Regions from separate parts of the Homo sapiens genome. Here region 2 is linked to region 1. Evidence: fine-mapped expression QTL. A gene starts in region 1. The other region holds a variant in brackets. All regions are shown on one strand. Distances are between the middles of the regions.

Region 1 (2,914 bases):
AAATATATACACACATAAGTGTATACACACACACATACATATATATATATATATATATATATATATATATATATATATATATATATATGTATATATTTTTTTTCTTTTTTGAGACAGTTTCACTCTGTTGCCCAGGCTAGAGTGCAGTGGCGCCATCTCGGCTCTCGCGTTCATGCCATTTGCCTGCCTCAGCCTCCCAAGTAGCTGGGACTACAGGCGCCTGCCACCACACCCGGCTAATTTTTTGTACTTTTAGTAGAGATAGGGTTTCACTGTGTTAGCCAGGATGGTCTTGATCTCGACCTCGTGATCCACCCGCCTCCGCCTCCCAAAGTGCTGGGATTACAGGCGTGAGCCACCGCGCCCGGCCTTTTTTTTTTCTCTTGAGACAGAGTCTGTGTTGCCCAGGCTGGTCTCAAACTCCTGGGCTCAAGTGATCCTCCCACCTCAGCCTCCCAAAGTGCTGGGATTACAGGCATGAGCCACTGTGCCTGACCCCTGTTTCCAATTAAAGGAACAAACAGTAGAAGATGCAATTCCATCAGAAGCAGGAATCTGAAAAATCAAGATACATGAACATTGGCCATGGTCTGGATGTATTATTTAAAAAACAAACACGAGCTTGGGAAGATGCGTATTTGGATATTCTTTGCAATATTGTTTGTAAATAGCAAAAAATTGGAGGTAGCCAATGTCCAAGATGAATGGCTAAGTCAATGTGATACATTTACACAATGGAATACTATATACCACAGAATAATGAGATTCGGAAGAGTCAATTTGGATAACTCCCAGTAATCTGAGGTTAAGTGAAAAAAATGAGTGTCTAGAATCCTGTGTGTCCAGTATTAAACTATTTATGTCAATGTGTAAGCACAAACGGAAGGAAAGGGTCACCTGTTCTGAAGCACCCACTGTGTGCCAGGTGCGGGCCTGAACCCCCACTGTGACCTCAGAGCTACTTATTAATGGGATGTGTTTTTCAGAGACTAGGAAGCAGCCTCTGGGAGGGCAGCCCACATGGCAGGAGGGAGCCCAGGACTGCTGACTCCCGGGCCAGCTGCTGGTGCCCCCTCCCTGTCGGGCTGGCCCAAGGATTCAGGCCGGGGCCTCAGTCCTCGGCTGGGGCAGGCAGGAGGCCCTGTAACTCCAGCCGCTGCTCCCGCCCGCCGCCCGCCCCTTCTTCACCTCAGCCTGGGGAAGCCTGGCTTGCCTGGTCTGCCGACAATGCCTCCCATTCAGCCCTGTCCCAGCTGCCAGGCCTGCGGGCCGTGGAGGGGGGCTCCTGCCAGGCGGGGACAGCCTGTCCCTGCGCTGCGCCTCCAGGCTGGACCAGCAGTTCCAGGCGGCATGGAGGGGTGAGTCTTTGGGCCCGATGGTGCAAGGGGGGATTCAGAGCAGCTCAGTGGCCTCAGGTAAGTCTCTGCCCCCTCTGGGCCTCTCAGAGGCTGGCGGGCAGGGGCTCTGGGGACTTCCTGGGGTTCTCCAGGAAGGGGGTCTCCCAAGGTGGGCTCTGAGACACGTGGCAATGTGGCCACTGCCAGGAACTGGTCCTCTGGGGCTTGTCTGAGAGCCCAGCAGTGGTCCCTGCATTATGAATGCTTGTCGCTTCAGCGATCTGTCCCCATGGGTCCCCTCCCTGGCCTGCCCTGAGGCACAGCCTTCACCACAGGCTCTGGAGAAGCCACCAACTCCAACGCAGGGGCTGGAGCCTGGGACCCAAAGGAGACTCCAAAACAGACGATAGTCCAGTGAGCAGCGAGGGGGAGGCTCCTGGGGGCCGGGGAACAGCCCAGCGATGGGGGAGAGGCCATGCCTGACACAGGCTGAGAACAGAGGGGCCAGCTGGGCAGGGGAGGTGATCTATCATCCTAGCGCTTTGGGAGGCCAAGGTGGGACAATCACTTGAGGCCAGGAGTTCAAGACCAGCCCGGGCAACATAGCGAGACCCTGTCTCTACCAGAAGTAATTAAAAAATTAGCCAGGCGTGGTGGTGTGTGCCTGTAGTCCCAGCTACTCAAGAGGCTGAGGTGAGAGGATCACTTTAGCCCAGGAGGTGAAGGCTGCAGTAAGCCATAGTCATTCCACTGCACTCCAGACTCCAGCCTGGGCAACAGAGCAAGGCTTGTCTCTATTTAAACAAACAAACAAAAAAAGACTCAAGGACCCGGACTGGATGCCTCCCTCCTTTCTGGGGGGTACCATTATGCTCCTGCCACCTGGGAGCTGGCATCATATCAGTCTGAGGACAGGCTGCTTCCGAGCCTACCCTGGACCAGAGCCTCACCACAGCCTGAGAACATGCTCTGAACTGGAGTCATTCTCACAGTCAGCAAGTCCTCACTGAGCCATTGGGCAGAGGCAAAGGGACTAACCAGGTCACTTTTCTGAGCCTCGGTTTCCTCCCATGTAAAACAGGACTAATCATAGGACCTCCACTGCGTGGGGGGTGGGGGGCAGGGAGGCTCAGGGTGATTGGCACTTTCCTGGGCCCAAAGGAGGAGGCTCTGAGGGGTTTTTGGGGCAGGAGCTGCACCATGGCTGGGACTAAGTGAGGGACAGCATGTGGCCTCGGCCCTTGTGCACAACAGACTCTCCCTCCCCGTCCCAGGCCCCGGAGCTCCACCCATGTCCCCTTGGTGCTGCCGCTTCTTGTACTTCTGCTGCTGGCCCCGGCTAGGCAGGCCGCCGCCCAGCGCTGCCCACAGGCCTGCATCTGTGACAACTCCAGGCGACACGTTGCCTGCCGGTACCAGAACCTCACTGAGGTGCCAGACGCCATCCCTGAGGTCAGCAGGGCAGGAGCACAGGCACAGAGTGGCAGTGGGGCAAGGTGGGGACCCAGAGGGAGGAGCCTGGGCTGGGCACCAGTTGATCTGCCACCGCCTGCCCGGGAGACCTTGGCAAATTACTT
Region 2 (2,845 bases), 60 kb after region 1:
ATTGCAGTAAGAATGCACTGGTCTAACACTTCAACCCGGCTGTCTTTAGCCAGAGGCAGAGCTTTGAAACCTGGGAATTTACTGCTTGGAAATGGGATGGAATTCTAAACATTTCCCTTTTGAGGGTTTATTCACATGAATCCTGGGCCCCTAGTCTTAGGGAGCTGGAAGGCCGTATTTCTGGAACAGGTGTTCACTACTTCCGTTTATCGGGTCTCAGCCAAGTAGACCTGGAGCTGCTCCCTAGCAGAATGTGGTGCACTCTTCTGGGCGCCGCCTCCTCTCCTCCTCTTCCTATCTCTCCTCCAACATCCAGCTTCCATGCTACCCTTTCCAGAAACATTTCCAATTCCCATCAGCTAGGTTTTCTTTCATGGATTCCCTCTTGCATTCCTTGCATAGATCACTTGGTGCTTTGTACTTTGTCATGCTGTCTTCTAGACCTTAAGCTGGTTAGGTTGAGGGCAGGGCTGCATGCTGTTCATGTGTGCTCTGCCTGGCCTGGCACAGATGTAGCTGCTCCATGGATATCTGCGGGGTCACTGAGCTGAAGCAGGTGGATGCTGGATGCTTGATACTAGATACATTTTCTGGGGCTGGCTCTGATTAATGCTGAGTGAGTTCACCTCACATTAAGATGCTGGTAAGGTGGCTCATGCCTGTAATCCCAGCAATTTGGGAGGCCAAGGTGGAGGATCACTTGAGTCCAGGAGTTCGAGACCAGACTGGGTAACATAGCAAGACCCTGTCTCTATAAAAATTTTAAAAAGTCAGCCAGGCATGATGGTACACACCTTTGAGTCCCAGCTACTAGGGAGGCTGAGGTAAGAGGACTGCTTCAGCCCATGAGTTTGAGGCTACAGTGAACTACAATTGTGCCACTGCATTCCAGCCTGGGTGACGAGACTGTCTTAAAAAAAAAAGATGCTGGTTGTTTTCAGACTAAAATAGTAGCAACAGGTCAACGTATCTGAAATCCTTTAGCAGTCATATATGGTTAGTGTAAATCTCTGTGATAAAAGAAAGATCTGGAATTGATACCAAAGCAGCTCAGTACTTTTTAGTGTACTAACACATTTGTTTTAACAACTTGTTCACAGCTACTGCAATGTTCAGATGGAGGATCAATAATCTCTCCATTCTTTGAGCATCTAGCATATTACTGGACTCATGTGTAATCTCTCTCAGCCTTCTAGGTTTTATTTCCACACATTTTCCTTCCCTTCAACCCGATTCCAACTGACTTCTTTGTATTCAGTTAGCAAACAGGAGTGTTCCCCTAGCTTCATCTTCTCTGTTTTTAAAAGACGGAGTCTTTGGAGTGCAGTGGTGAGATCCTGGCTAACTGCAACCTCCACCAGGATCTGATTCTCCTGCCTCAGCCTCCCAAGTAGCTGGGACGGCAGGTGCCCACCACCACGCCCTGCTGATTTTTAGTAGAGATGGGGGTTTCACCATATTGGCCAGGCTGGTCTTGAACTCCTGACCTCGTGATCTGCCTGCCTTGGCCTCCCAAAATGTTGGGATTATAGGCGTGAGCCACCATGCCTGGCAAGTCTTGTTTTTTCCAAGAAGTTACTTGGGACTTAGGCAGATATGATCCGTCTTCTTAGGTCCTCCTTC[TC/C]ATCCCTGTAAGATGAAGGTGATTGGAAGACCATGAGGTCATCCTTAAGGGGTCCTGTATCAAGGTGTTAAGTAGGTTATCACTTCCACCTTGACTGTTAGCTGGTACCTGCAGTACTTTTTCCCAGAACTTTGGATAAATTCACCAAGATCTACTTGTGAATACATTATACGTAGTAGATTAAAGAGGCTATAAGCTAATGCTTTCACTTTTTCCTCTGAATCCTAAGCATTAGGCACTTAAAACGGGTGTACTCCAAGACAAAGATGTGTTATCAAGTGAAACAAAGTCAGGGTGTCTGTCTCACACAGTTTATTTAACAATAGGTAATAAGAAATCAAATTTAACAGTCTATACAGTGATCCAAAGTTCATATTTATAAGTAATCAACTTTAATTGCATGATTTACAACAGTTGAGGGTTTTTGCTATTTTCAAGTTTTATAGAAAGTGTGTGTGTGTGTGTGTGTGTGTGTGTGTGTGTGTGTGTGTGAGTGGGGGGTAGGGTAAGGAGGAAGAAAGCAAGCAAAGAAGAAACCCCCAGGGACATTTTGCATGTTAAAATCATCCCACCGGAATCGTTTCTTACCCTCTTTTTAATTTTTTTACTTTGTTAGATGTAAAAATAACGAAAAAAATTCTTTCAAGAAACAGAAACCACAATATATAATACATCAATTTGGCAGCTGCCCCTGTATATTTTTGAAAAAGTCATTTTTCTCTCTACATGTACAAATTATTTTAATACTTGAAGTTTTACGCTCAGACTTACAGAATAGAAAATTTTCTGGAGCACAAAAGTTGACTTGAGGGGAAGAAAGGCAGTTTTTTTTTTTTTTTAAACATTTTTTAAAAGAATGAACATCTTTGCACCCAGAGAAAAAAAACTGGTATTTTAATATATATTTATATATATTTATATATATATAGAATGTAATTTTAAAGTAACATTAACCCCTTTTGTCCTCTGGTTTAGAAATGTTTTAACTCTTCCATAAAGTGAGGAAAATAGGGAAAAATGTCAACCATCTGCACCAGTAAATAATAACTATTAATATTACATATGTTCATTAATTTAAAAAAAATAATAAAACCTATTGGAGGTGCAAGGCAGGAGCATATTGTTTGGCTTCACAGGCCTCAGCCTCCTCCCAGTGCACACTTGAACCACACACACAAAGGGGAAGAAAGGCTGGTGGTAACCAGCCATAACAAAAATATA

Evidence for each region. PIP is the estimated chance that this variant, and not a neighbour inherited with it, causes the effect.
Region 2: its variant is fine-mapped to the expression of CHADL in whole blood (INTERVAL, PIP above 0.99).

Annotation. Positions count from the first base shown.
Region 1 is chr22:41,239,318-41,242,231 of GRCh38, reverse strand. It overlaps CHADL (chondroadherin like), which reads left to right and starts at 1,301. Exons shown (of 6, transcript NM_138481.2): 1 at 1,301-1,358; 2 at 2,612-2,789. The coding sequence starts at 1,351. RefSeq lists enhancers at 697-1,197, 1,198-1,698.
Region 2 is chr22:41,179,152-41,181,996 of GRCh38, reverse strand. EP300 (EP300 lysine acetyltransferase) reads right to left here. Exons shown (of 31, transcript NM_001429.4): 31 at 1,920-2,845. Among named protein-coding and RNA genes, the nearest start is that of EP300-AS1, 17 kb to the left of the region's middle. The variant TC/C (reference allele first, on the strand shown) is at 1,624.